Linked DNA regions of Homo sapiens: all the other regions are linked to region 4. Evidence: fine-mapped expression QTL. A gene starts in region 4. Each other region holds a variant in brackets. All regions are shown on one strand. Distances are between the middles of the regions.

Region 1 (7,914 bases), 190 kb after region 4:
TTACACTCAGCTGGGCCGAGGGAAACTAGAGATGAAATCTAGGAAATATTCCAGAGTCTGGCATGTGAGCAATCATAAGCAGTTCATGGAAACCTCAGAGTGTCTCAGCTTTCCTGCTTTATATTCATTAATTTCCTTTTCTCATATTAATAAAGGTCAATGCTGTTAGTGCCTATCTTATCCATAGAAAGGAGCTTGATCTTGAACTAATTCCATTATATTCTATTTTTTAATAGAAAACTAAAATCTTACATTTGGGGATGGCTTTGTTGTCAGTATGCTTGGTACAGCTTTGTCTTTTTCTAGTGAATAGCCCTTTACTTTATTCCAAAAGATCGTATGCTTCTTAGAAGCATTTTTATTCTTTAGTTAAAATTACATTTTACTTTTAAAACTCAATTTAAAAATCAGCAGTTATTTATTGATGGCATGATATTAGTTGCTATACTAAATCCTATAGATGAATTAATTCTCACACTGACACTAGGAAGTAGAATCAGGTCTTTCTGATGCTCTATAATAAAGTGAAAAAGAACACACCACACCCACATTAAGAATAGATTAAATGTCTTAGTTAATTAGCCAAGGAAAAAGAAATCTCTCCAAGGCAGGACCAATATGGCCTGACTAACAAGGATTTCCCTGGTCTCTGCTCCCTGAGAAAGTCCACCAGGAAGGTCATATCCACAGATAGTAAAGACCATCAGTGTCTAAATGTCCCTGATAGTAGACCTACCTCCAGCTTTCCAGGCTTCCCAAATAATTACGTCTTCACAACCCAAATTATTTTCCAAATCCCGTGTTCTTATAATTACAGCAGATTTCAGAACATTATACCTTTGCAGTGGTGTTCCTTAAAAATGAGGTACATAAATTCCTTTAATTCTATAGTGAAATAAAAATATAGTTCATTTACAATTTAAGGACTGGGGCAACTAAAATCTGGCCATTTGAATAACTAATTTCTGGTAAAAAGAAGAGGAACTAAAGTATAGAGATTGGTTAATATAGTATTGGAAATTGTCAGGATAATTTGGGAATAGTTCTTTTTAGATCAATGGATGGATTCAATAAGAACATCTTTGACTTATGATTCTAAAATGTGGTACTATATTTTTGCAAATTTCATCTTGAGGAAATACTTTTCTGTAAGATTTTCTCCCTAAAGCTAGATTAGATCTCCAGTGGGAGTACCCGTACTCCCTGGAAGTCTGGAACAAAACAGGCAATAATTTCTCAGCTCTGCAATGGTATACAATGGTTGCCTAAACAAAAAAGGGCAAAGTTGTCTGGTACTTGCATAAATAGATAACTAGAAAGATATAGACATGGGTATGCATGGGTGTGTGTGTGTATATGTGTATGTGTGTGCATACAATTAAGAAGCCTATATGTATATGGATATAAGCTTATAGATATACATACATATAAGCTTCTTAGTTCCAAATATAGTAACATAAAGAATACTTAAGTTATTAGGAAAAGATACTCTTTCAATGCAGGCTCTAGGGTGCACTAATTCAGTTGTTACTATCCATATGTGGGGCTATATAAATTTAAATGTAAATTAATTAAATGTAAATTAATTTAAAATTCATCTTCAGAGCTGCACTAGCCACATTTCAAGTACTCCACATATGGCTAGTAGCTACCATATCAGATAGCACAGACGTAGAATCCTTCCATCATTGCGGGAAGTTCTATTGGACAGTGTTGGTCCAGAAGTTAAGGAAATATTTTTAAAATGCATTTAATAAGGGCTTGTTAGTCTTATCCTTTCAATAAAGTCTTCCCTGAACTAATTTCTGTTGTAGATTACTAAAATGGGCTATTTTATTATGCTGTTCACATAGTTATTCAACTTCTAATTAGAGGTTGATGAAGTTCTTTCATTTACAACAGTATCATTTGCACCACATTTTCCAACTGCATTAAGAAGTTACATGATCTCACAGAAAATAACAAAAGACAGAGAATTTACTCAACAGTCTAGAATATATAAATATAAATATATGTGAGGGGTGTGTGTGTGTGTGTGTGTGTATGTGTGTAAGTTTGTGTTGACTGAAAACCAAAGTTGAGAACGACGTGCTCCCACATTGTAAAGTGAAATGCTAAACATACTACTAGCTGATCTTTGCAACCTTTTCAAGAAGAGTCCAGTTAAGTCCAACAGGGACTTCTGGTCTGCATAAGGAAATCATTAGAGAAGATGTTTTGAAGAAATGTCTAAGAGCAAAGAATTACCAGTGGCTCTCAAAGATTCTGTTTGCAAGTGGCATACTGCTCATATTTCACTTGCCAAATCAAGTCATGTGAC[CA/C]AACCTGCCATCAATGGGGTGGAGAAGTATACTCTTCTTACAGAGAGTAGCAGCAAATAATTAGGGACAATAGTATACCTGTCACAAGGCCCTTTTGCTAATGATAAACATCTCACTCTCTGTATTAGTTAGGGTTCTCGAGAGAAACAGGACCGGTAGGATATACATATATAAGGAGATTAATATGGGAACTGGCTCACATGATTATGAAAGCAAAGAAGTCCCATCATATGCTATCTGCAAGATGGAGAACTCCAAATTCAGACTGTAATTCAGGTTGGGTCCAAAGGCCTGAGAAACAATAGGAGCTGCTGGTATAAGTCCCAGAGTCAGAAGGCCAGGAACTCCAGTATTTCAGAGCAGAAGACAGGTGTCCCAGCTCATGGAGAGAGAGAGAGACAGACAGAGAGAGAGATAGAGAGAGAGAGGGAGAGAGAGAATTCGCTCTTCCTCTGCATTTTTGTGCTGTTTAGGTCTTCAACAGATTAGATGATGCTGACCACGTTGACGAGGGCAGCTCTTCTTTACCTCAGTCCACTGATTCAAATGCTATTCTCTTTCAGAAACACCCTCACAGACACACCCAGAAATGTTTTACCGGCTATCTGGGCATCCCTTAATGTGTCAGTCAAATTGACACGTAAAATTAACCATGACACTCTGTCTTCTATATATCTTGTTATGATATAGCTGGTTTCTAGACGGTATTTTTATATCTGCTTAGAAAAAGGACCCCTATTTTTAGAACAACTGAGGTATCTGGTTCTTCAACATTTTCAACAATAGACCACTGTGGTTTCTTGGAGTCTCTTATCATCCTTGACCTAGGCTCAGCTTCACTGGTTACCCTCCTACTGTACTCCAAATCTGTAGCATGCATAAAAAGCAGAGAACACTTTGTTCATTACTCTGCCTGTTTTAGTGCCAGAGATCCTGGCCTGTAGTCGGAAATCTGGTAGGGAACAATTTGGACAAATTGAATAGAAGGTGTTATTTATGGCCATGAGGACAGAACAAGAATACCTGCCGCTGGAAAGCTTTAGATTATGATCATGTTTTCTTTCTCATTAGCAGGGTATTTCAAAGGCGGGTGGTGGTCACTTTATTCATTATAAACAAATACCGCTGAGCCTTAACTTTTAGAAGAAGCTTGTATTAATCAACACAGCACCCAGAAATGACACCTGTGAGACAGCTGTTTTTATCTCCATTTTGCAAAAGAGCCAGCAAAACAAAGAGAGGTTAAGCAACTTGCCCAGAGCCTCACAACTCTTAAGTGCTAGAGATGGCATCAGAGCTTGAGTCTTCCTGATTCCAGATTTACACATGGATCTGGTGAGCATCTTCCTACTCATATCAACAAGTAGCATTTGTCAGGTGGTATACTGCATTCGCCAGGCCTCTTGCCAAAGGCATTATCAACATTGGTTGATTTGTCTTTAAAATCACACTGCAAAATAACTATTATTCTTACTATTCTATAGCTAGGAAATTGAAGCTTAGAGGGGTAAATATGCTGTGAAAGATTACACTGCTAACAAGTGCTGGAGCCAGAATTTTAAACCAAGTCTAACTCTAAAGCCACTGTTGCCACTGCTTACTAACCTCTACTGTTATAGCTTTAACGCTTAGCATCTGCATCCAAAACTAGGGGTGCCCTGAAGTGCAGAAAGGCAGTATACCTGAAGTCATACCAGAAAGGCAAGTAAGAAGAATACAATTACTTGAGTAAAAATGCATGGCATTGGATGATGGTGTAGGTTTATGGTGGAAAAGAGAATATTAAAATGAGAATTACAGAAGAAAATCACTTAATCTTGAAATAGAAATGGATTCCTGTCCCTGAAGCTCTTTTGCTAATTTTGCTTTCTCAGACCTAATTTTTGTCTTAAGCATGCTTATTTTGATTCTAATCCAGTTGAAGCAAGCTTATAATTAAAGTGGCATTTACTACATTGGACATTTTTCATACTGATTAGATAGGAGTGTCTAGGGCAGCGAAAGGCCCTTGGGATCTGGGCACATCCAATGTCTTGATCACACGGTAGAAACAGGCAACCAAAATACAGCCTTGGTGGGAGACAGTCTGAGTCAGAGGCATTGTTAGATGATAAGCCAAAGCAGAAGCCAGGGAGCTGAGTGCACCCAGAGATACTCATTGCTGGGAGGCTCTGTGTTCATCTTATTTTAATCAGTTGACCATTAAAAGAGAGAGAATGAAAAATCATTAGGATGACTGAGTCATATGACAATTGTGTGCAACTCAACCATACCTAATACTAAAACAAGAGGTATTCTGATGGAAGTTAGCACACAGATTGACATGAGTTGTCATTTCTGACACTTAGAACCAATCTTTTTCTAAAGAACTCCTACCTCTCAAAATGGTAGGATATGAAAATGAGGCCCTAGCTAGATCAACTCAGTGGAAGCTAGTATATGATTTCTTAACTATTTCAACTGGAAGTATGCACCAGGCTGTCACTGATGTCCAAATAACCCCTGCAATACTTAGACATCCTTCCACAGAAGATTATTCCTAATTCCTGTATTTCTAGAACGATGCCCAGAATTTAAAATAATAGCCCCATGCCTTGCTACTCGTAACTGAGAATGTAAATGTCCTTGGATAGCTGGAAAAATTGGAGAAAAAATGATAAAGGTTTTTCTTCATGACAATCAGTTCTACAGACATCTAGCTCTGCCAGAATGGAGGCAATCATTTATTATTGATTAAGCAGTGGAAGCCGTGGTTCTGGGTTTAAGGAAGACAGTTTTCTGGCCAAGAGGATCTAGAAAGTGCCCTTGGAACAACTGACTTTCCAGGATGTTAATATACTCTATGGCCACTGACAAAAATACGAAGGATTCTGGGCTTGATTTTAAAGGAAGAGTGAATGTTCACCCTCACTTCTTCGAATATTGAGTAGAAAATCAAAGGCTTTTCTCTAATCTTCATTCCTCTCTTTATTCCACTCTTGGAGCCTGGTTGTAAACCTTGGTATCCTGTGCTATGGTGAGTCTACAGATGGATTGGGTTGTTCAGAATCTTCCCTCCTGTAATACACTACTACTTTATATAAAGAATGACCCCAATCACAGGTTCTTATAGATCTTTAGAGGAGAATTTAAAACTATGGGGAAAACAGTAATTTTGTCCCACTACAAACAAATCAATCTGTGATTTGTGTATTGAGACTCCCTCAGAGAGATTTAGGCAATTAAGAATTGGAAACCCTTAATTAGAATGAAAAAGACTCAGTGATGGTAGATGGAGATGCTGATGAGTTCCAGAAGGGCTCTCTGTGTGTTGAGAGTTGGGTAGTCAATATGCAATGTAACATCTAGAGTAGTGTGGAACATTTCATTACCAAACACTGTAATCATGCTCAGGGCTCCCCTGGAGTGGCTCATCATGGGCCCTGACCTCAGGGTCCTATTTCTTCTGGTGTGGTTTGGGGTATATTTAGTGAGTAAATGACCATGCTTTCTCCCAGTGGAACTAAAGAGGGCAGGTTGGATACAACAGCTTCTAGAGCTGGCGCTGGACTTTGTCAGCAGTATGGCTTTTATGATCGTCGATCATAAGCAAAGAAAAACTGTTTCTATCCCTCTCTCTGCCAGGCATCCCTCCAGTGTCTAGGTTTCCCCTCTGCGGCTAAGTGGTATACATAACACCCCTTCTATGTGCCAGGCTATGTCACTGTAAGGCCCTTCTGATAATGATAAACAGCTCACTCTCTGTATTAGTTAGGGTTCTCCAGAGAAACAGGACTATTAGGATATACATACAAAGATATAAGGAGATTAATATGGGAATTGGCTGTAAGCAACTATAAGCAGTGACAGCCTGGTACATAGAAACAGCCTCCCCTTTTCTCTACACTTAAATCCTTCCTGTTCTTTAACAGGGAGCTTGGACTTCACTTCCTGCAGACAAATATCTACATATTACCCTCCAGTTTATTTTTTATTTTGTTTATTTAATTGTGACTTTCTTCATTGTACTGTAACTCCCAGGGTACTGAACATAATTCTAACAGGAAGACTTCAATTAAAATGGAGTAATGGTGAGGTACATCTGAGATACTTGCTATTTTGGAATCTAGGAAAGCAAATGTCGACGGGAAAACAGGAAAGTAGGATTCAACATCTAGACTTTTTAATGGTAAAGATTCCAAAGAAAAGGCTGTATTTAGGAAAATGAATGAATACTGTTTAATTATATGTAGAAATCTAAAAATAAGTGAATGAGTATATACATTGGAGAGAGTGACAGAATTAAAAGTAAGACATCTGCAAAGTGATAGAGGAAATAGAACAGATAATCTGGATATTACAGGCCAAAAGCAACATAAAACATCTAATAATGTTTTTGGTATAGTGGAAAAATCAACAATAATCTGAAATTTTCTGTTCTTTTGCAATATGAACAAATTTTATTTTATTGTTGGATATTCTCTCTGTCAGCTTTCTAAAATGATCTGGATATATTACTGACTTTTCTAACTTTATTTTCCCTGCTACTATTATTTTATGTATTACTCTGTGGGCATCTTATTTTCTTGCCTACAGGGAATAATTTAACCTAAATATTAACATTAGTCATTTGAGCATAGTATTTCACGGACATTTTTATCCCTCTGTTTTTTTAAGATCATCCATTACTTTTATTCTGTTTCCTGTGTTGACGTTTTTCATGCTGTTTGCAATAATTTTCAGTAGGAAAAAAGTTTAAATGCATACAGTGACACTTCCATGAAATGGAATTTTCAAAGACATTTGTTTCTTGAATCTGTTGCTATGATTTTAAAATAGGAATGTTATACCCAGGAAAATATGCAATGTGGGAGCAGGACATATTTTACCACTGTGGGTATGTTCAAATTTCTAAAAATATTTTTGTTTTCTTTCTCTTTTTAAAGTTTGACAAGAAAATATTTGTGCATTCAAAATTTTTTTCCTAGTTATTGAGTTGTTTTATCTCATTGTTCCTTGATGTCATCTCACCTAAGTATATGATTTCAGTGTGTTTTCTGGTTGGACTCCTGAGAGATGGCAACGTCAAGCAGGTTTATTTAGCTGTGTGATGAACAGAACTGCAGGAAGCAAGCAAAGGCTGTTAGCAGAAACCAGGAGGAGATCTTTAAAAGCATGATGAGCTGTGTTACACACACCAAGGGCACAAATAAATTCCACTTTGCACCATTCTCAGAGATATCGCTGGTAGGTGGTAGAGTGTTGAGGAGTCAGAGCGCTAGTCGAGGATCAATGCGGCAGCAGCAGCGTGGAGGTGAGAGAGCCGAGGATGCCGGGAGCCACCTGGTTCCCACGACTGATGGAGCAGGACCACCGCCCTCAGCCTCAAGCTGTTCCTGCAGCTTGGAAACTATCGGCTAAGCTGGCCCAGAGTATGAGAATTTTCTAAAAGCTGAAGGGAGACAGTCCCTTTAGTCCATGGGTATTCCAGTCATTAGATCCAAAGACAAGCTCAGCTTCTATTTCAAAAAAAAAATAGCAGATAGCTGCAGGGTTAGCTCTCCCCGCAATAGCTGTTCACACTGATTTGCTTCATAGATTGATTGCTTTTGCC
Region 2 (7,914 bases), 750 kb before region 4:
AGTCTCTCTTCATTAAAATTGGATTTTCAAAGTAATTTCTGGTTAGTTCTATTTTGTCTTGATGATGCCTATTATCATCACTGTATAGGGACTCCTTCAAAATTTTCCTCATGCTACTGAGGATTAATACAAAGCAACTCCACAAATTGTAGATTAACAATCACTGGGCTCTTTGGATAAAGTAATGTTGCACTCTGCTTTTCATCCTAGTGCTTAACTAATGAGCTTTTTTAACAATCACTGGGCTCTTTGGATAAAGTAATGTTGCACTCTGCTTTTCATCCTAGTGCTTAACTAATGAGCTTTTGAAAACTTAAAACTAAAAGCCTTAGAACTGTGGTCCTTTGTGGCTTCTCTTGTCTGTCCTGAATGATTAAGTGGCTTATTAAGACAATTAAGTTTGGACCTCTAACTAATCGTTTTTATGAGACACAATATCCTATTAGACAACCCTGAATCTTGTGGGACTTTTTTTATTCAAAGCTTCTGCTAAATTATGATAATGAGAACCAAAAAGCCATAGTAATTAATTATCATGGATTAGCTCATTTAAAGTAGCATCTCTTTTCTTTTTCCTCCCAGCCTTCATCTCTCTCATGCCAGAACTAGGATACGGACAAAAAGTTGTGGTAAGAAATCAATTTCTCTGTTTTTGTTTAAGGTGATCCAGTTTTGTAGACATGGCTCTTAATAAAGAGACACCCCTGCCATGTATCTGGCCGACTTACTATCCAAAGGGCCTCAGCTTAAATGTCACCCTTGAGGAAGGTCTCTCAAGCTCCCCATCTGTTATCACAATCACACATGGTCATTTGTTTGATTATATACATAATGAGTGTCTTCCACACTAAAATGTTTTACGAGACCCTATCTGCCTTGTACCCCATTGTACCTCCAGTTCAGCATCTGACACAAGGTAGGTGCATGATAAAAAAAAATGTCATGAATGGGTTAACTGTAAGTCATCTTCTCCATCTTATCATAGTTTAAATACGCAAAATGGGAGTATTTTGTAAAAATAAATTATAGTCAATCATTAGCTTTCGGAACCTTTTAAAAAAATTTCTTTAATTCTATATGCAAGGCAGAGTAACCTAATTGGAAGGGCACTGGATGAGTGTTTGAAGACACAGCTGTTTGTGCTGGCTGTCATTTCTTAGTCATGAGATCTTGGCTAATCTCTTAAATTCTCTGAGCCACAATTTCCTAATCTGCAAACTGAAGATAATAATACTTCTCCTGCATGCTTCACAGAGTTACTGAAAGGATCAAGAGAGAATTAATGTGAAATTTCCTTATAAACTCTAAAATACTAAGCCAAAGTAAGTGGTGTCATTCTAACAGCTTTTATGTATGAAGGCTGCTTATTTTTATTGATTGCCTCTCCATACACATACATAAAGTACTTTTAGGTAAAGATGAAAGCTATTACAGTACTCTGTTATAGCCCACCTCATTAATAGATCATTGAATAAACCACTAATCTATCACTTAAATAATGGACTATACAGCTAAAGCATAATAAAAAAGAGTTTTGATCAAGCTTTGAGTAGTGTTTTTCAAGACAGACAAAGAAGAAAATGCAGTTTTTCTCTCTCTCTCTCTTGCTCTCTGTCTCTGCATGTAAATCTATCTGCATGTAAATCTATCTCTGAGGTTTCAGAGTTGCATTATGGTGATAAAATCAACAAGCAATTGGTTCTGGCCATAAAACACATAAGCTTAAGGACCTACAAGTCAGCAATTTGAGAGTCAAATCCATCTTTCATGGGTGGATTTCACTCAGCTAATAGACAGAGAATGATGTATAAAATCATAATGCCAACTTGTAAATTTATAAATAGAAATATGGTTGTCATACCTCCTTAAACACTGACATCGGCATAACCACCTCTTCTCTCCCAAAGGCAGATCATTAAGGAAAGTCAAACTTTAATGGGAAGGGTCCTCAAGAAGCATAAAATCACAACAGAAGTAAGTTACATTAGTCAGATGATGGTCCAAAGCACCATGTCCACAATAAAACCATTGGCCAATATGTTCTTTCTGTATTTAGACTGGACACAGCTAATGTTTGTTCTTCTGGGTCAATTGTTTCTGACTTTATTGCTGAATAGTGTCTCCTTTGACTGTTAATTTTCCTTTAGGTTTATTTATTTATTCAGTCAAGTCTTGCTCTGGCCCTGCCAGTAAATCCATTTTTTTCCAAGTGGTCACATATCTCTGTTATGATCTACTATCCATTGATTTTATAATTTAATTCTCAGAGAATAATCTCATTCCTCCTACTTACAAGATCTCAGGGGAACTTCATGTGCCACTTAATGTGCCCCCATGTACCACTTTCAATAAAAACAAGAAATAAAAACATTAGCCAGACATGAATTGAGCTGTCTGTTGCTCATAGGACATTGAATTATGAAGCCAGCACTTAAATACAGAAAGACAAAAGAGTCAGCATTTAAAATGATGTTTGTCCAAAGTTATATTAAAACAAGACTAGTAAAGAACCCAAGGGATTTTTTAAATGTGACCTGTCTTGACAAATTATTCAACCAGATTTTAAGAAACATGGAGTAGCTTTTAAGGCATTAATGTGTTTAATGAAGTAGAAAAAGAAATGAAAAATCAATTTCTTACAACTTATTAATTCATACTAAGAGACTGATTTCCATTTATAATTCACTATTATTAATCTCTTTCATTGATATCTGACTGGGCAATTATAAAACAACACTCTTGATAAGCTAATTATAAAACAACACTCTTGATAAGCTAAGTATCATTAATTGTAACAAAAAATGGAAAAATATTGAAAACATACTTGGATTACCAACTACCTTGTGAATAAGGCTTAAACTATTTTAAAAACAATACAGGCCATGTGCAACCCAAATATCTACACATTTTATAATTGGGATAAAATGTGAAGAAAAACATTCCAGGAGCACATACATCAAGAAATAGGTTTTTATTTGTTATAAATTTTCATAGATTATGCTGCTTTAGTGACATTTAGGAAGAGAGACATTAGAATACACAATTAATGCAATCCAGGTTATTGCCATGAAAAGTACATTTGATATCTAATTTTATAAATCTCTATTTTAGAAAAATGTGTTCCCATTCCTAACAGATATCTCCAAAGGAGAGTAGAATCTTTTTTAATAAAAGATAAAAAAGAAGAAAAAATGTACTGATATAAGATCAACACAGCAGAGAGAGAAAGAGATGCAGTTTTGTCTCCATCTTAAGCAATATAGAATTTTAGTGGCATTTTATAATTACTATCACACTTGTTGTTGAAATAGGCATATATGGCCCAGATAATTGCCAGCAGCATGCTTACCTTTGAGTGTAACTCAAGCTCATTTCACTATTTGTTTGTTTCCTGACTCATTCCAAAACAGATTTATGTTTAGCTTTGTGCCATTTTGAATGTGTCAAAAGAAAGCATACAAACACCCAAAATCCCACACCTTAATGGAAAGTTACTTTGTAATATCTTTGTAGCATAGTTCTTAATCCAAATTAAGCTAAAACTTTCAAACATTAAAATCTATAAATGTTTGGAGTGCAGGGCATTGGAGGTATTTAACAAACATGAATTCCTAATCTAGATGTTTTCTCCTTGAAACCAAGCATGTTCCAGGACTACTATCCCACCACCTCTCAGCTTCTGCTAACAGAATGTGACTTGGTTTTGCTAGTCATCCAAGTTGTCAGCATCATGAACTAAAAATACATATAGATTTTAGATTAGCTGTTGTTTGAGATCCTTGTTTTTATTATTTCAATTAAACTTTTGTAAAGTGTTTGGCTCATGTCTTTGTGTTATGGCCTATGGTAGGGAAAAAAACCAACAAAAAGACATACTCTCTACTCTCAAGAAGCTCCACGTCTACTGGGAAACACAGATGCCATCAGTTCAAATGGCTGTAATACAAAACATGATGATAGCGATGACTAAAATAAATATCATTGGTTGAACACTTACTATGACATAGATACATTTTAAAGAATTTTGCAGGTATTTCCTACTCAATGAAGTATTAGGTTGGAGCAAAAGTAATCCAGTTTTTGCCATTATTTTCAATGGCAAGACCTGCAATTACTTTTGCACCAACCTAATAGATGTTAATAATCTTATTTTACATGTAAAGAAACTAAGAGAGAGAGTAAATGATTTTCCAGAGACCACACAGCAGAGAAAAA[C/T]AACAGATCTAAACTATCTTCAGTCAAAGGTAAAAATCCTTGGGATTGTACATAGGCTAACATCTAAATGGGTCAATCTTTTCATTCACAAGTAGGTACACAACGGCCAGCCTCATGCCATGTCTCATATTATGCAGAATGAGCCACCTACAAACCCAGTCTATAAAATATAAAATAGATGAAACTCCCTCTCACAACTTAGTAGCAAAAAAAAAAAAACAAAAAAAACCCAGGATTTTCTTAAAATGATTAACTCAGTTTTAACTTTGTGTCTGTTTTCATAAATGTCCTTCAACCAAATTCTCATTATTCATTCTACGAGGCAATATCTTCTTGTGTATCACATACTTAGACTCAAAGTAAGTACAAAAACTGCTACCTCAGCTAGGTGGAAAGAGAAGAAAAATGGTATATAATTGCATAAATCTTCTAAACAGAATAACATTTACCATTGTTTATTAATCTCTTTAATAGCCTTTTCCCTGAACAAGGAAAAGAAGCATGACTTTTTAGAGCACTCCAGGTAACTGCTTAGCTGTTGACTGAGAAATAGTTACTCATATACACCTCCGCTCAAGCTTTGTTTCTTGAAGGAATGGCACAAACTGTATAATTTGGCTCAAAATCCACAACCTAGCAAGTGTAATTTCCCTGTAGCCTTAAGTGAAGGCAAACTTTAGCTGAGCAGTAAACATGGTATACAGATCAAATAGAGGTTTGAACATACTCTATTTGCTTCCCTTTAGAAAAAACAAAGAGAGGAATGACAGGAAATGGAAGCAAGCATATCAGGGCAGATGAGAAAGGAAGAAAATAAAAATACCTTAGAACTCATCCAACTTACTCAGCTGAAGCCAAGGAGTCTGAGTCACAAACACAGCTCTGCCCCTTCACTGGAGCTGGGGTTGCACAGGCAAAGTCCGACACAGACATTATTGTCTCTCAAATGTCCAGCTTTTAAAATGTATTTAAGAAACATGTCATTAACACTTAATTCTCATATACTCAATTTACCAATAGAGATAGGTAATATGATGTATCATAATGTGATCATACAGAGAACAGTTACTCAGCCCACAGACCCCTTGCTTTCCATTTCTTGTGGTACCAACCAATTTCTCCCATTTTGTCCCTTTCATAAAAGTAGAGGTATGAATAATATAGTGAAATGGAATCAATGGTTTCATCTGAACAATGTTTGCTCAGTTGACACCTTACTGATAAAAACGTAATAGCTATGTAAGAGTGGACTAAAGAGCTGATTTACTTTATTATTTCATTCAATATGAACTATAGGACAATGCGTTTCTATAAAAAATTTGTACCACAGATTTTGAGTGGCAATACATAGCAAAATAATTGTCCTTTCCCTTCTAAAATTATTTTTTGATAACTAAGTGAACTTGTTATAAAAAAATTTCCTCAATTGCTTCTCAGTATATTTGTAGTTAATTTGAGCTCATGATCCTCAAGAGATTATGTGAAAATCCTAATGGAAGCATAAAAAAGACTGAAAGCTTTGTGGATGTTTCACAGGCTAAGACTTCAAACTTCCGCACCAAGTTTTAATCCCGTTGGTATCTGTCCAGGGGAAAATATGTTCTGATTTTCATTCTTCTTCCTGAAGTTTTCAACTTGCTTTCCTAATATTCTTCATCAACACATGAGTTCTTCCACTGCATCTCTCTCCTAGCCACACTATTCTTGGGATCATCTCACCACCACTCTGCCAATAACCATGGGACTCATTAAAAATAGGATGCCAAAGGCATCCTTCCTTTTGATAAAAGGAAATGCGATAGTATTAAGAGCTGTAAAATCCCACGGATTCCGGGTTATAGGATTTAAAGTCTTATACCACTTTCAACCTTAAAATAGGAAGAAGAAAAGGAGGTAAGGAAAAATGGAGGGGAAAAAAGAAGAAAAGAAGGTAAGGAGAGGGGAGAGGGGAGAAAGGGAGGACTTCCTTTTAGGAATTGGATCTCCTTTCCCTGGGTTCCATAATGTCACTTATCCTGTTTATCCTCTTACTTTGCCAAAGCTTATCCCACAGTAATTTCATTTAAAAGAGCACAAGAATCACAAATGACTTTTCACATCCCAAAAAATATATTTACTCTATACAAATACTTGAATAATAGTTTGGTGGGCTATGTAATGCTAAGTTGAAAATTACATTTCTTTTTAATGTTAAGGTGTCTCTCCATAATATTCTAACTTCAGTGTTGCTTTTGAGAATTTTAATGCCATTCTGATTCCAGAGTCTTTGTAGTTAAATGTTTGTTTTTCTCTCTGGGAAGTTTTGGATCCTCTGCTTTTTCCAGGTGTTACGAAACAGCACAAAAAATGTGAATCTTTTCTTGCTGAACTCTTACTGGGTTCTTTTAACCTGAAGGCCTGTACTTTAGTTATGGAATTTTTTTTTGTGCCCGATTTCTTGAACAATTTCCTAAACTGTTTTCTCTGTTCTCTCTTTATTTAATATTTATTAGCTTAATGTTGGAATACTGGATTGATAATTTTCTTATCTCTTTTTTTTTCTATTTTCCATTTATTTATATTTTGATTCTATTTTCCCCAGGAATTTTCTCAATATCTAGTTGATCTTCTACATGATTTTATATTAATCTCCAGGAACTTTTTCTGATTGTTTCTTTACATAAATATCTTAGTTTTTCCTTTTGGTTTTTGTTTTTATTGGAAGCAATATTTCTTGTTATTCTTAGGATTTCAATTACACCAATTGCTTTTGTCTTCTTTATCTTCCTGTATTGTCTGTTTCTTTTACTTTTTCTTTTTTAACCATTTGCACTTCCCCACCCTGCTGACATGTTTACATTACCAGGTCTGGTACAAAGGAGTCCAGAGCTTCTCAGGTTCAGTTTCTCCTGAATATATTAATGGCTGGCCTCCTGCTTGAGGGGGAGTCACTTGATCTCCAGAAGGGAAGGAGAACTAGGGGCTTAACTGTACCTTATGCACATTTTCCTCCAATCCAAGAAAGCCTTACTAACTTCATAAGTCATGGAACTCCTTGAGAGTGAGTTTTTCAGGTTGCAGTGGTCCTCAGTGTGGTCTTCTATAAATAACAAACTCACATACTGGAAACAAAAATCACAGCCATTCATAAAGAACTTCCTAGGTATCTATCCTGATTGTTGCTTGGTGTTTATACATGCATGATGTTCAGCCGTGATTCACTAGACTCCAGTCACATTCTCCTTCCTTCTATTTTTCTAATACTTCAAGCTCTTTCCTATGCTTATTTTGGAATTAAGCCAATACTTCTGTATATAGATTGTTTACAATCAGATACAAACTAAAGGAAGGAACAGTGATCAAAAATGCATGACCAGGCTGGACATGGTGGCTCATACCTCTAATTCCAGCACTTTGGGAGGATGAGGCAGAGGCTTGCTGAGGCCAGGAGTTTGAGACCACCCTGGGCACCATAGTGAGACCTCATCTCTACTAAATAATAAAAATAATAAATAATAAATGCATGATTAGACAGAACCCCACGGCTGAAGGAACCATAAAGTTCTATAAAGTACTATCCTAATAATGCAAAGTAAATAAATTCTTGCTGTTATACCAATCTACCATTAAAAACCACATAAGTAAAACGGTATACTTTTAAAGAGATGCTTCACAAAGGCATATTGATTGATTGGATGTTTTTAAAAGAACTTAGCTATA
Region 3 (7,914 bases), 180 kb after region 4:
GGAGCTGGAAAGCTGTGGGTTAAGAATGAATAGGAAATGAGCAAGAGAACATCCTAAATGTAATCCTGTTTCACAAAGCTTGACTTTTTAAAGGGAATGTGCTATGTGGTCTGTAATTTACTTTAAAACACTTCAACAAACAATTTATGTGTAAATACTTATTCTATTTCATTTTAATCCAGACCCTAGGGCAGGTAGTTATTCGAATTGAAAATATATACTCCAGCAATGGTTTTTGGTAGCATTTCATCAAAACGCTAAATTTCAGAGGCAGCTATAGTTGCCTTGGTTTTTATCTCGAACACAAGAGGTTTTGATAATTAGTGAAAAGAATGTGAGAAGTAGGTTTTCATTTGTGAAATTCCAGGTATTGAAGTTATGTGGATGGGTTAGAAATGCTTTAGAGGTGTTCTCACTGTTTCATGAACAAGGTAAAAGAATATGGTGATGCTCCCTAGGCTTGATTTCTGTGCAGCCATGTGTCCAGGATATTGAAAGGAATAAGGTTCCAGAGGAGGAAGGAGGCTGGAAGAGATGGGATACTTCATGGAGGTGGTAGAACAGGTCCTGGACAACAGGAGGGTGCCTTGGGACTGGACATAAACTCTATCATTTGCCTGAAGCCTTTTAGGTCATAACATTGTTGACATTGGAGCCAAGTTTTACTAATTAATAGCTCCAGGCATGTGTGGTTTACTCCACCATGGTCTTCTCATCCTCTCTCCCCATCCTAGGGAAAAGCTTTTCTTTCTTCCAGGTGTTACAACCTTTTCTCTGAAGCAGACCAAGAGAGACTCTTTTTTTTTTTAGACAGAGTTTCACTCTTGTCGCCCACGCTAGAGTGCAATGGCACAATCTCGGCTCGCTGCAACCTCCGCCTCCCAGGCTCGAGTGATTCTCCTGCCTCAGCCTCCCGAGTAGCTGGGATTACAGGCATGCGCCACTGCACCTGGCTATTCTTGAACTTTTAGTAGAGACACGGTTTCACCATGTTGGCCAGGCTGGTCTCGAACTCCTGACCTCATGTGATCCACCTGCCTAGGCCACCCAAAGTGATGGGATTACAGGGGTGAGCCACCGCGCCCGGTCAGAGAAACTCTTAAGACTATTAATGGAATTTATCCTTCTGGTGAGTAATTAAAACTTATCTAGGGTAGGGCTTAGAAAATATCTGTTTATAGTTGTTGTTAATTAATATGTATAACCATGCATAGCATATATTTTGATTAGCATATAAATGCTTTCAGAGTGGTATCTATTGGGTAAATGTGAACCTTTACATTAGCAGACTTTTTCTTTTTTAAAATAACAATATAACAAATTTAAGGAGTGAAAGAGGATGGCAATTAACAAAAAACCAAGATCAGCTACAAGGTTAATGCTAAGATAGACCTGTCAGTAAGGTCAATGAGCTAAGATAGATTGTGATAAAATCAACAGTGTGCAATGACATTTTACTGAACACTTAACACTAAAATTTTGCTTAATTCTTTTACCTACTATATTAACCATAAACTGACTTTTTCTAAACATGCTTTAATCAAAGGTGGTTGAAAGAACTATAACCTAAGGTGAATAAATGGTTTAATTTTTTTCCATCTCTACAAATGTTTGAAGATATTCTAAAGGCCAATATTTTGTTACATTAAGCAATACTGCTGAAGAAAATTTCTATTTGAAGTCTAAACAGTAAAATGCCATTGTCATAGCATAAAATAAACTACATAACAATGGATGCTTCTTTACTCAGGAAGATTAAGTCCATATTTTTCAAGGAAAGTCAAGAAATGTAGTTCCCTACAGTTTGATAACATAACTGGTTATTAGTATCCTCCCCAGTCTAATCATACTGAACGGTATATATCAGAAGCAAAACAAAAGATGCTGAAAGCTTAAGGGCAGGAGTAAGGGTAGAGGAAAGGAAGTCAGTAAAATGATCTCCATGAATGCTCTTATTTCGGTCCAAGGAGTCTTTTCAGTGTTTAAGAGAAAGGCTGAGCCAGTGCCTAAGAGGCCAAGAGCTCCTCATTTAGGAAACTATAGAACAAAGGGAATCTGGAAAATTCTTACCTGGAGTAAAACCAGAATGTAAAGTTTCCTTTTATGTACCATTCCACATGGCACTAAATTCATGGGCATTGAATATTTTTTTAAAAAGTTATTAGGCATAGAAAACAAATATTGAATAAATTACAGTTGGAAAAGGGAATATGCTATACAAGCAGCATTTTAGGATTTAGACATTACGTACAGAGTGAGGGATTCTAAGTGTATCATAATTTTATCAATTCAGAACCAAATATCAGGTCAAAAGACATGTTTTGGAAACTCTATAACCAGATCACAGGAATAAGGAAGTTGTAACATTTGTTCTAGTTACATATACAACAGTTAAATTCGTTCTCTCTTCACCATTCTCTAATGTCATAGGAGCTTTTAGCTTTGAAAAATGCATTGGCTTGGGGCCAGAAATGGCATGGAACGGTGCTGCTCAAAGTGTGACACATGGATCCATATCAGCCTGCTAACTGTTACTAGGTTGTCAATGAAATAAAAGCAGAAATTAAAAGTTAGATTTACAAACTGTTACAGCAATTTGACATAGTAATTTTATACTGGCTAAATCTAATAATAAATAAATGGGCTTCTATTTATATTTGTTTATATTTTCATTTCACCTTTCTAGCAATTTATATTATATTTCACAGAACTATTCTCTTTCGGATGGGAAAAAACCCTGGTTCTTCACCTTAGATAGTTTGAGAAGCATTGATGTAGACCATAACTGAGTGATAATTATTTTAAGACCAGATTTTTTGTTTTTTGGGTTTTGTTTTGTTTTTTTGAGGCACATTCTTGCTCTGTCACCCAGGCTGGAGTGCAGTGGCAAAGTCTTGTCTCACTGCAACATCCCCCTTCCGGGTTCAAGCAATTCTCATGCCTCAGCTTCCTGAGTAGCTGGGATTACAGGCATGCCACCATGCCTAGCTAATTTTTGTATTTTTAGTAGAGATGAGGTTTTGCCATGTTGGCCAGTCTGGCCTTGAACTCCTGGCCTCAAGTGATCCACCTGCCTCGGCCTCCCAAAGTGCTGGGATTATAGGCGTGAGCCCCCATGCCAAGCCAAGACTAGGTTTCGAAGTCCAAGGTCCATACCTCTGTTAAGATATTTTGGATTAAAGAAAAGCTGTGATGACATCTGAGATTCTTTGAACTCCTTTTTCATAGAATACTCATGAATACTTGAGCCCTCCATGAAAAGGAGGGGTCTTATAGAAAAAGTTTTATGAGCTGTTGATTGACTAATTCTACATTTCAGAGTCAAAAATCTATGTCTACTTTGGGTGACTTGTTTCTGCTAAATTTCCTTGAGTCCCTTCTGTCTTCTGATTTCTATTCTATAAAATCATAGCAGTGTCTGATTCCGGGAATGACATGTGGTTTTCATTTTTTCAAAAACAACATTCAGCTTTCCATTACTTGTAATCATTGAAGAGCATAATGCACAGATAGCTAGATGGCAGAAATTTCCAAACTCACTTGTAATTAGCTCTGTAAAACATTTATATACCTTTAAAAAATCGTTCTTCCGAGCTGACATATGTAAAGTTAAAGTTAGCTGGCATTTCTGAGCAGAGCCCAGTAGAAAGCAGTGTGAAGAGCCCAGGCTGAGAAGATTTTTTTCAGTCTGGTTTTTTATTTCATTGATCTCCAAAGTGGGTTATCTATGGGCTGGTAGTTGAGAGTTGCCTGTACATACAGAACTATCTCTTAACTGACTTTAAAACAAAACAAGGAATGTGGCTTCCGTCAAGTTAATGAGGGAGGTACCAACCTTCAGTGAGCCCCTTTAATCAGAGCACAGAATAATAAATGATGATGGGATAATTAGAAAACAATTTAGAAAGCAATGTTATATCTCTACTTATATCAATTGTTGGTAAATTAATTAAACTGTAAGTGGGTGGCAAGGGTTTTTTTAAGCAAACCCCTAATGTAGAAACTTTAAGGAAAAATAATGATAGGACTTTCTCAAAACAATCAACAAAAACTGTGCTCTCAGTTATAATTGAAAACAAGTGAAATAGTGTGGATATTTGTCTCCTCCAAATCTAATGTTGAAATTTGATCCCCAATGTTGGATGTGAGGCCTAGTGGGAAGTGTTTGGGTCGTGGGGCAGATACCTCATGAATGGTTTGATGCCATCCTAGTGGTAGTGAGTGAGTTCTCACTCGATCAGTTCACACAAGAATTGATTGTTTAAAAGAGCCTGGGACCTTTCTCTCCCCCAGCTCTTCCTTTCACTTGCCATGTGATGCCTGCTCCTGTCTGTCTTTCACCATGAGTAGAAGTTCCTTGAGGCCCTCACCAGAAGCGGATGCTGGTGCCCTGCTTCTTGTACAGCCTCCAGAACCATGAGCCAAATAAACCTCTTTTTGTTATAAATTACCCAGCCTCCCAAATTCCTTTATAGCAATACCAACAGACTAAGAAAATCAGAAAAAATTTAAAAAGCATATCTGTGACATGAATGACTTAAAAAAAAAGAGAGAGATAGACCTTTATAAGATACAATTGGAAGTACAAAAGCTATAAAGGAAA[G/A]TCTAGATATTGTTTACTCCATAAAAGCATTTTAAAGTCTGTATGGAAAGCAGTGCTTTATAAATAAAGACAAAAGACAAGCAATATGCAGAAGAAAATGTTTGTAACATATAAGACAGATTAAAAATGATCATAGCAAAAACATAAGACATTATGCATCAGATGCTTATAACATATATGACAGATTAAAAATGATAACAGCAAAACATAAGACATTAGACATTATACATCAGGTGCTGTTCAAGACATTTTACATATTAACGCATTTAATCCTCACAAAGATGAATATTACCTAATGAAATAGGTACTATTATTACCCTATTTTGCAGATAAGAAAACTGAGACACAGAAAGGTCTCAGGAAGAAAAAAGACAAGGTGGAATTCGGATCCAGGCAGTATGGATTTAGGGTCTGTTCTCTCAATTACCATATCATAATGTGTCTCTTAAAAAACTTTAAAATGTGAATGCTGTATGCAATGTTAACAATGATGTCGATGATAGCACAGAAGGCAGCTACTCTCACCTACTGCAGGTAAGAATGTAAATTGAACAATTTCTCAGGGTCAATTAGACACGACTTAATGAAAAGCCAGAGAATTCTGTATGAATATTTGACCCAGCAATTCCACTTGTTTTTTATGGTATCAATTTAAAATGGATCTTTATGCATTGACACATGAATTTTATATACCTTTAAAAAATTACACGAAGTTGGTGGCAATCAGAATGTGGGTGCCGGATTCATTTTTGCTTATTTACAGCACTGCCAGCATGTACTAAAGTATTCAAAATATGACCAAATTTAAGCAACCTCAGATAATGGTTGCTGTTTCTCCCCTCCCTAACAAACCATTTTCTGTTCTTGGGTACACAATTGGACTACATATCCCAGCCTTCTTGCAGTTAGATCACATGACTGAGTTCTAGTAATGAATACAATTTCTGGGACAGAGCTTTAAAGAAGGAGGTGTTCCACCTCCAAGCTCTCATTTTTCTTTCACTGACTGGAGGCAGATGATGAATTTGAAGCCCTGACAAAGAGAAGGCAAAATCAGTTTGTGTCCCTGAGTTGCTAAGTGGAGAAGAAACGTCCACCAACCAGGAAACACCTGCCTCCAACTGTTAAGTGAGCAAGAAATAAACTTCTGTTGTGTTTGAGCTATTACACATTTTCTGATCTATTTGTCTACAGGTTAATTTATGTTTAAATATGTTTTAAACTGCCACTGAACTGACTTAGTCACATATTTAAACTTTGCAGTAGGTCTGTGAAATGTGCTTTGTTTCTGGTCAGCATGGACACCCGCTTTAATAGTGGCTTCAGATGAGGCACCTTGTGACAGAGGAGCTCTTCCCCTGGTAAGCCATTTCTCTTGATATGTCTTCAGCTCCTTGGTAACAGCTTGTGATGATGATCTTGCAGACTTCTCCAGCTTTTCTGCTGATACTCAGATTCTTCTTCTCAGCAGGCTGGTTCTTGTTTAGCTAGCTAATGATTTTATTGAACCTTTAAGAATCTTGTGTTTGCCCTCCGTCATTGTTTTGGCCTTAAATTTTCTTATTTTCCACCTTGTCCTTAGTGAAGACTGTAGATTTAAGTGAGTTCTTAGGAGATACCAACTACATTTCTCTGCTTCTCCTTTTTTTGTGGGTGTGGAACTTCTCAGCCTTTTGGACTACGTAATTAAGAGCTTCATTAATCAATATATTCTTCCACATTGTGAATTAATACTCTTCTGTTTGGCCTCTTTGTTCACAGCAGCAACCTTGAAGATGTTGTGGAAGACAATAGCCATTCTTACTTCACTCTGAGGATCACGATGGCGTGCAAGGGTGTGCCAAGCACATTGCTATCTTTGGCCATTCTCTCTCACATTAGTACACCTGGATGTGAATGGCACGTTATCTATGTAAGCAGTGATGGTCTCTATCTGGTGGTAGAAATGACAGAATTACACACAATCAGGACAGCTGAGATTCCATTTACTAGCTCAGTAATCAGAGAATATGTATGACATCCCAGCAAAAAATGTTGAACATGTTCAGATTTCATCATATCAGCACCACAGTATCAGTCTTACTGGGAGGTGCTCGCATTCAGTTCCTGGCTACTGAAGAAATTTTGCAGGAGTTCCAGATAACTTACTTGTCCCATAATAATGAAAACTATTACAATTATGCTAAAGAAGAATACTTAATAACACAGTAAAAATGTTTATGATGTCTTTTAATTTCTAAAGCATGTTATAAAAGTATTACAGTATGATCTCATATTTGTAAGTAAAATATATATTAATTCATTTAGCAAATAAATATTAAGCCCCTACTATGCACATACCAATATAGATATTGGTATTTGTGTGGGTGTGTGTTACAGCAGATTTTAATTTTCTTATTTTGTATTTTCTGATTTATCTACAATGAATTTGTATTAATTTGCTAACAAAACATCACTATTAAAATAAATTTTTTTTGAATTATAAGAAAAGGCTAACATCATAACAATAAGGTTGTATAGAATAAACTGACAACACAGAAGTTATTTTGGCCCTGTGTTCCACAGTGACTCACCAAATATACCCTGCACTGTTTATTTTATTTTTTTCTATTTCACTATTGAAATGAACAGATGCATTTCACGTCACATGGATCTCGTGGAAACATGCCAAACATTTTCTTAGCAACCAAACTCCTGTCTTCTGCACTGTGCATGATTAACTAAAACAGCCTGTTGACGGCTTAAAATAAACCTGCCTTTTCCATTTAGCATTTTATCAAATGAATATAATTTCATTTGCTGATGAATTTAGTTCAGCTTCAAGAGAATTTTTCTTTTCTTCATGGGGAGGCTGAAGAATCAGAACTGTCATACCAAAGAATGAAAAGCAAGCCTAGGGAGAACAAGACAGTCTGATGTTTACATGGGTAAAGTAAAAGTATCTTTGTCAATATTACCAGCACTCTCCCTCACCCTCTGTTTTATAGGGTGGAATGTTGATTTTAGTTCTGCTTTTGCATTATGGTGTTTACGTTGCTTGATTACAAGCATTAATTTAAATGACTGCTGTGGGGATTACTATTGTTATTATACGTGAGCTCTTGTCTTACTTTTGTTTATTTCTAGCACTTGAGTATGCCCTAAAATTTAATTAGATTCATCTCTTAGGATAGTAGACCCTTTGCTGGGGTTCAAAAGTAAAGGGACAAATGGTATAATCCGTCAAGGGAGGAGGGAGGTATATTATCAGCAATGAGGAGAGTCAATGTTTTCTTAGAGGATGTGACTCTGCAACTTGGAATGAATTGATA
Region 4 (7,914 bases):
TATCCATACAATGGAACACTACTGGACAATAAAAAAGAATGATGTACTGATATATGCTACAACACAAACTGATCTCAAAAACATCATGCTGAGTGAAAAAATCAGTCACAAAAGACTACATATTGTATCATTTCTTTTAAATAAAATTTCCAGAAAAGGCAAATCTAGATACAGCAAAAGTAGATTAGTGCCTAGGGCTAGGCTGGGAGTGGGGATTGGCTATAAACTCCATGAGGGACCTTTGTGGAATGATGGAAATGTTACAAAACTGGATTATGACAATGGTTGCGCAACTCTATACTTTACTAAAAATCACTGAATTGTATACTTCGAATGGATGAATGGACTTTATAGTAAGTAGATTATACTCAATAAATGTTTTAAAGGAAATTATACTCTCATAACTGAGAGTGCTGAGTGTCTATATCCCTCAGCACTAGCCAGTAGGTTTTTAATCTTTTTTTAAACCAGATTGGTTATTTTAAAAATTACATCTCATTATTCTTAATATTGTACATTTCTTTGATTTCTAGTAAAACCAAACATTTCTGTCTACTTGAGTCTTCATTATTTTCCTATAAAGATATACATCTTTTCCATAAGGAAATGTGAGATGCTATCTTTTTAAAACAGCAAACCTTTTTCAGTGATATGTGGTACAAATATTTTTTCCCAGTTTTTCATAAATTTAAAAATTTTGTTAACAGTTTTTTTTCCCATATTGAAATATTCATTTTCATGTAGCCAAATTTATCTGTGTTTTCATTTACAGTTTCTGTTTTTGGTGTTATGACAAGTAATATTCTTTTCAAAATTAACTATCACAAACCTTGATCATGGTTAGTTAAGCATCCCCTGTGCTAATAAGCCCAATGCTACTGCTACTGGGCCTTCCATTTTAAGGAAACAGATAAAAACCTAATTTTGAGTTTCAAAGCTAGAGGCAGATGGGCTTTCCTTCCTTAAACCTTTAAGTGTCAAGAGACATGACTGCTTACATGCCACATTCATGGAAAATTGCCTCATTAGAGAATTTCTGATGTGATACACTAGACATTTAAAATAGTTCTAGTGATAAGGAACTGGAAAATATTAATAAAAAGAAAGAGGTAAAAATGTGTTTCCTGTCGCTAATCATGCCAGGACTGTGACTCTAGGCCTCGCTGGCTCATGTCTCTTCGTAGAACATCAAATCATCACATAACAACATGACCACTGCGGGCATTTGTGGATGTCTGGCCAGAACAGTCTAGAACTCAATCACTCATTGTCTCACCACTGAGTCCATGAATGTTATCATTTCCCCTGTAATTCCACTCACCCACCATCCATTATCTAAAAAATACAGGAAACTCACTTTTATTTACATCTCACAAACTTAGAGATAATATGCACTGAAGAACTCTTCACTAAGTGCTGTATTACTTCACAAAATACTATGGCATTTATAAAAAACCACTTGGCTTAATGTAGTTATGACTATCACACACAAAGATACACATAAAACTTACAAAGAAATGTCATCAGAACATTTTAATATTAATTCAGATGATATTATAGCCCTGAAGTTGCAAAACTGAGGCCTGGTCATGTTAAGATACAATCAGGAGACACACTTGAATACCTGGTAACAAAAAATGACTCTGACTTCTTTGTATATTTGAGTCCTACCCACACTTTTAAGACCAGCCTAAAGTTAACTTTCCTTATCTGTCCTACTGCTTGTGGGATCTATAACTACACATTCTGGAACACATACACAGTTTTAATGTTATTCAACTGTTTTGTGCTGCTAGTCTTATCACCTCATTGAATTAAACACAAGTTCCAAGAGGGCAAAAACTGTATGTCCCTACAGCATTACAACAGGGCTAGGATTCCAGATGTTTTCATTGACTTTATCTGTACCACTTCTTGCTCTGCAGAACAACTTACTCAGATGTTCATTAAATAACATTTCTTGATTTCTAGGAAAGGTTGATACAGGGGGCTAAGAAGGCAAAAAAGTACTAGGGGGACATTTTAAAAGCTTATTATATTGTAGAGCAGACAATTCTTTAGTCAAGAAAAATATTGTGTAGTATGTAAATGCTTTGGCAGTTACCCCAGCTTTGAAGATCTTGAAGAGCTATGCATGGATTGTCTCCAGTTCTTTTTTGTATCTAAGCAGGCTTTACCTAATGACAGTGGTTCCTCACATAAGTTCCAGTGAACTTCAGGATTCCATGAGGCTGCTCTAAGACTTGACTGATAGATGGATGGCCATGATCGCCGTGTTTAATCTGAGGTTGTTCCTGCCCAGGTACCAACTGAGGTCGTTAGGCTTCAGGTATAAATGGAAAGCCTTCCTATTAATCAAGGAGAGGTTTTCCATCACCGGAGAACACTCTGATGTCCTCAGGAATGACACACAGGTGCCTGTACACAGTTTTGCCCCTAGTCTCAGGACCATTGGCTAGCTTATGCATGGGGGTTCCCTGCCTTCCAGGGAAATAAAACTGTAGCTGTAATTTTACTGTTATTTTAGTTTTTTTTTTTTTTCCTTCCGTCTCCTTGAGAGAGGCAGACAGGGGAAGTAAGAATAATGGTTTCAGCAGCTCTGGCCCTTGAATAAACAGCAAGGAAGGGTTCCATCGTCAGGGTCCATTATACATAAAGTGTGCACACCTAACCTACTGTTTATGTAAACAATGGTTATAATTCCCAGGAAAAAAAGATGGCCTCCAGCTCACTTACTCTGTAACCCGTATCTTGATGATTAGTTCCTTTGTCTCTACTAGAATTTCCAATCCATCATTAACCCTCAGTCAAAATGCTGAAAATGGTGACATCACTTAATATCCTAATTCTAGTAAAACAGGGCTAGAAAATACCTTCATAAAATTAAGTTTAAATAATAAATCTCAAGTATTAGTGCTCTTAATATGCCATCTGTCTTCTTAAACTGGGAGTACCTTTGGATTTCCTTAATTCCTCTTGACCCACCCTTTCGTAAGTGAGTACGAAATGGGTGAGAATAAGACTTTGGCATCTATAGCATCTGATTAAATCTTTACTAGTAGTTATTGGTTGGTGAGATGCAGGACAATTTATGTCTTTAAGTCCCAGCTGAATGGGGGTAACACCGCTCAAGCTGTTTTCAGGATTAAATGAGATAATGCAAGTCAAATTCTGCACAGCGTGAGGGACACAGTATGTGCACAACAAACTCTAAGACTTTTAAACACTTTCAATTATTTTTAAAAAGTGGGGTAGGAGACAAGTTTCTACCCAATTTTTAGTAATAACATATAAGAAGGGGAAAGCTTTTGAATTTTTAAAACTTCAGTATTTTAAAATAATGCAGTCACTCTCACACACAAATTAGTCCATGGTCTTTGATAAAGCAAGACATTAGGTGTAATTTTGCTTCAAATTTAATACCCACACTCGTTGACACTGTTGGAAACACTGAGGCTGGCGGTGGGAGGGTGCAAAGCACTTGCTTAGGAACCAGCTGAGAAATCCTCACTGATTTCTCAGGGAGGAGGAAACCTTTCCCTTCCCTCCCCGGGACAAGTCGAAGCCCCACCCCGAGGGAGATTTGTGTCCCTGAATGTAGTAGTTGGTGTCCGGGGCCTGCGCAGAAGAGGACAGTCCGCAAGGGGCGGAAGACAAGACAAAAATGACTCCAGTTCGCTAGACGCGCAGAGGGGCGGATAGCGCGCGGACCCCGCCTTCCCCAACCGAGTGTGGGTTCCAGTCGCTGGGGAGGACCTGGTGGCCCCCTGACCTTGGACGAGCCATATTGGACGCCCCGGCGCCGTCCCGTCTTCCACGCTGCCAACTCCACCGCTCCCGCCCCGAACTGCGGGTAGGTCCAGGCCGCCAGGCCCCGCCTCGCCGGCCCCAGCCCTGATTGACACTGGAGTTGGTACATACGGGTCTGCAGCGGAGGCGAGCAGGAGGGTGAGCGCTATTTTAAACATGGCTTTCTCTTTCCCTTAGCCTAGGAGCCACCGCAGCGCACCCAGCCCGCGAGTACAGCCGCATGGGAATAATCCCAACATTTGCCTGATTTATTTTCTTCCCTCTCCTTACGCTTGTACTTGTTTTTCTCCTCTCGCTGTTTTCCCTTCACACTAATTCGCAACCTGGCAGTTTGCAAAGAGGAAACTCCCTTTCGGAATGGAAAGCCGCTTTTGCTTCTTGTTGTTGGGGGTGGAAAACATTCCAGCGAGAATGAGTTCAAAAAGAAGGGAAACCGCGTCACTGGAGAGAAAGTAACATTAAGAGATCGATGAGGACGGAGTGGGTAGGGGGGACAGAGAGAGGAACGTCTGCAACAGGCATCTAAAAACAAGCGTGGAGGAGCAAAGATTCCCAATCCCCGGGTTACTACCGCGCGCGTTCTGCGCGAGCCATTGCAATGCCAGCATTTACTGTAAGCAGAATTTGAAGGCTTTTGAAATCTTTTTTTGGTAAGACTTACCTTTCTCTTCGGCATAATGACTATGTCGGTGAAGCAAAAAGTAAAGCAACGGACTGGAACTGCTGGCGCCGCCGCTGGATGCTGCCTCTGCCTCTGCAGCTGCTCACGCGCAGGGCACGACGTAGCCCGGCCTCTTCGACCTGCACCTCCGCGGCTCCCTCTGGGGGCCCTCTGCTCGCCTCCCTGCTGCTCCAATGAGGAGCCCCGCCAGCCGGCCGCGAGGCCCCATTGGCTGAGGCAACGTTCTAAATTCCACGAGGGCACGCCCACCTCCGCGCGCGGTACGCGCTGTTGTAGTTTCCACTTCACCGAAAAAAATCTGCCTGGCGACTGAGCATGCCCAGTTCAACTAGTAGCCTCCAGGCCACACAATCCTGAAGTTTCATTGTTTCGCTGCTCTCTCTTTGAGATTGTAAGAATAAGAACAGTGTGTGTCTTCATAGGAAGGAAAAAGAGTAAGAATGAATACGTAAACTTTATAATGTAAATATATACACAGCAGGTACCTTATTCATTTCCTACCCATAAAGGCTTTTAATGAATGTTACATGGTGGGAATCTGTAAAGCGTGGGAAGGTACTCTGTACTGGAAGAGCGTGGCAACTTCTAAAGGCCTCAGTTTCCCCCCCTAGATATATAGTGACAACAGTCCCTAAAATCACTTAGCTCTAATTTTCTGAAATCTGTGATTATAAATCACTCACTAATTCAGCTAACTTCAAACTAGATGTGAAGACGAATAGGACATGTTTGTTACGGAAATTAGGAAAAGAAAGAACAAGGCAAAAACTGATTATTTTATATTTGAGACATATATTTGAATGACACCCGTCATGTTACACTTTATGCGTAATATTTCTCAAAGTTCTGCAAGGCATAAAATGAGCATTGCAAAAATATTTCTGAATTCATTTTATGAGACCAGATTTACTCTGATACCAAAACCAGTGAAAGACTTCAAAAGAGAGTTACAGACCAATATCACTCATAAACATAGACACAAAAGTCGTGAACAAAATTTTAGTAAATGAAACTCAACAACATTTAAAGGGACAATACATCATGACCTGTGGGGCTTATCTTGGGAATGCAAAGCTGCTTTTTTAATATCTGAGAATCAATCAATGTAATTGGCAGGATTAATAGAATAAAGGGGGAAAAACAATCCTTTCAGCAGATGCAGGAAAAGCGCTAGTGAATGGGTAAGCAAATTGTGATGAGCACATGCAGTGGAATACTATTCAGCAATAAAAAACAATAAAAAATTTTCCTACATGGATGAATATCAAAAACAAAGTGCTGTACGAAAGAAGTCAAATACAAAAGACCACACTGAATGATTGCATTCATATGAAATTATAGAAAAAGCAAAATTGGGCAAAGTTAGTTTCAGAATCATCTTAGCAGGCAAAGCTCACATCATAGGAAAATGTGTTGAAGCCTTACATTACAAATATGGCCAAATCCACTTTGGTAACACAGAGGCTGCAAATATGTATTAAAAATATCATGTATTAAATATGTATTAAAAAAGCAATGAAGTTTAATATTTCACTTTTTCTTTAGTAATTTTCAGAATACATTAATTGATCTAGTACTCTCCAGAGGTGGTTGATTACTTTCTTTTTTGGAACATCTTTATGAACTCATGGATTTTTACATATTTGGTGTGCATCAGTGTATTGCTATCATTATTATTACCTTTTTAATGCTCCTATTACCACATCTTTAGCCAATGCATACCCTTTCAAATTAGTGCTTGTGTCCTTTTGACATGATCTTAATCATTTTTGATAGATTCCCTGTTCTTGGGCATTCAGTGAATGACAATAGTATACTGAAACGAATTAAGATAAAAACCAATTGCTTAGAGCTAGATAAAAATTTACAAGTTAATAATTTTATCATTAAAATAATATTTATAATGAAGATGTCTTTCAAGATATTAATTTGCCAAATACTTGATAGTTAAATAAAGAAAAAGTCAGTGAAAACATTTTTAGTAAGATATGTGTGAGAAGGATACTGAGTAGCACTTGCAATCTGGACTGGATGGCTATTTTTCTTCATGGAGATGGAAAGGTGCCACAACAAAGGTAGTGCTAAGGTGAATATTTCTCCTCTGTGATGAAAAATAACTCACAAAATTGGCTTCTTTGTTAATTTTTTTTCAAAACCAAACACTCAGATCATCAACAGCAAACAAAATTGTGAATGTTTTTACTGCACACAATAAAAATGCTACGATGAAATTGAAGCTTGCTTGTTGGATGAAGAAAGCTGATTGTGAGGACCTCGAGTTCTTGGAATCTTTAGTTCATTTACAAGTTATGAAAATAACAGCTTCGGTTGAAAAACAACAGCATTGCTTATCTTTCCTTTGATGTAGATTGCACCTGGCTGAGCACTACTCTAGGAAATGAAGTGTTCTCCCTTGTACCTTTAGTAGCCTTCAAGATCTGGGAAAGTCAGTGCAAACCTCTACTGGTGGCCCTGGAGGTAAGAAGAGTAGGCAAAGAGAATGATTTAGCAGGTAGCTAGAATTCTAGGTTAAGAGATAAAGACATCTGGGCAGAAATGAGGGTGTCACATAGAAGACAGTGAGGAGGTCAAGCTGGTAAGAAGTACAGACTCATTTGTTTATCAATATATTCCACTGAGCATTTCTACTACTTTGGAATATCAGCCTCTAAGACAGTAAAAGTAGGATGTATATACTATCTTAGCTAAGGTAGACCTGGATAAATTAACAGAGTTACTGACTGAGACAGAAAGAAAAAAAATAGTGAACAAACTTGTTTTCCAATTCCAGCTCCTCTCCTCTTTTGTCCTACTCAAAACTGTTGGAACTGTACACCTACTTCACATTTTTCAATCAGCAGGGCAAAACCATTTATAGTGTCATGACTATCATTAAGGAAAAGAAAGAGACAGAGACATTGACAGACACACACACGCAAACACACACACAGAGAGAGAGAGAGAGAGAGGGAGAAGGGAGAAGGGAAGGCTAAGAAAAGCAAAGAAAGGGCCAAGCATAGAAAATAGCAGAGTATATATGGTAAAGGTAAGTAATGTTTCATAAGATAATTGTTTCTATTTTCCATATGTGCTCATATAAACACATACACAACACAGATATGTATGTGTGTATGTTGGATTGTGACATGAAATATATTTTTAGTATGGTCTTGGTCAAAAAAATTGAATGCCACTGCTAATGAATGTTGTGGATCTTTGACATTCCGAAAAAAAAATGCTTAATATTAAAATTTTTTTTTTAGAGGTAAGATCTCATTCTGTTGCCCAGGCTGGCATGCAGTGGCACAATCATAGCTCACTGCACGTCAGACTGCTGGGCTGAAGAGATCCTCCTGCCTCAGCCTCCTGAGTAGTTATATAGGTGCAAGCCACCACACCAGGCTTGAGAGGAAGTTTTCAAG

Direction of the effects. Alleles are on the strand shown, and positions count from the first base shown. SD is a standard deviation of normalised expression in the study named. Not every link is listed here.
With allele C in place of CA in region 1, the expression in macrophages after interferon gamma of the gene that starts at base 3,600 in region 4 is higher (large effect, 1.0 SD a copy in Alasoo 2018).
As copies of G replace A in region 3, the expression in lymphoblastoid cells of the gene that starts at base 3,600 in region 4 goes down (moderate effect, 0.60 SD a copy in TwinsUK).

What was found. PIP is the estimated chance that this variant, and not a neighbour inherited with it, causes the effect.
Region 1: its variant is the best candidate, but not a certain one, in a credible set for the expression of HMGN3-AS1 in macrophages after interferon gamma (Alasoo 2018, PIP 0.56).
Region 2: its variant is the best candidate, but not a certain one, in a credible set for the expression of HMGN3-AS1 in spleen (GTEx, PIP 0.55).
Region 3: its variant is the best candidate, but not a certain one, in a credible set for the expression of HMGN3-AS1 in lymphoblastoid cells (TwinsUK, PIP 0.71).

Annotation. Positions count from the first base shown.
Region 1 is chr6:79,423,478-79,431,391 of GRCh38, forward strand. The region is part of intron 5 of LOC100506851 (a long non-coding RNA gene); the gene reads left to right. Among named protein-coding and RNA genes, the nearest start is that of LCA5, 110 kb to the right of the region's middle. The variant CA/C (reference allele first, on the strand shown) is at 2,321.
Region 2 is chr6:78,482,582-78,490,495 of GRCh38, forward strand. No RefSeq gene overlaps it. Among named protein-coding and RNA genes, the nearest start is that of MIR10524, 53 kb to the right of the region's middle. The variant C/T (reference allele first, on the strand shown) is at 4,216.
Region 3 is chr6:79,414,674-79,422,587 of GRCh38, forward strand. LOC100506851 (a long non-coding RNA gene) reads left to right here. Exons shown (of 7, transcript XR_001744215.3): 3 at 4,933-5,137; 4 at 5,867-5,964; 5 at 6,365-7,530. Among named protein-coding and RNA genes, the nearest start is that of LCAL1, 110 kb to the left of the region's middle. The variant G/A (reference allele first, on the strand shown) is at 4,604.
Region 4 is chr6:79,230,075-79,237,988 of GRCh38, forward strand. HMGN3-AS1 (HMGN3 antisense RNA 1) reads left to right here and starts at 3,600. Exons shown (of 2, transcript NR_040671.1): 1 at 3,600-3,853; 2 at 3,988-6,726. It overlaps HMGN3 (high mobility group nucleosomal binding domain 3), which reads right to left and starts at 4,608. Exons shown (of 7, transcript NM_001201363.2): 1 at 4,472-4,608. The coding sequence starts at 4,486. RefSeq lists enhancers at 1-128, 3,146-3,936, 3,937-4,726 and a silencer at 3,884-3,933.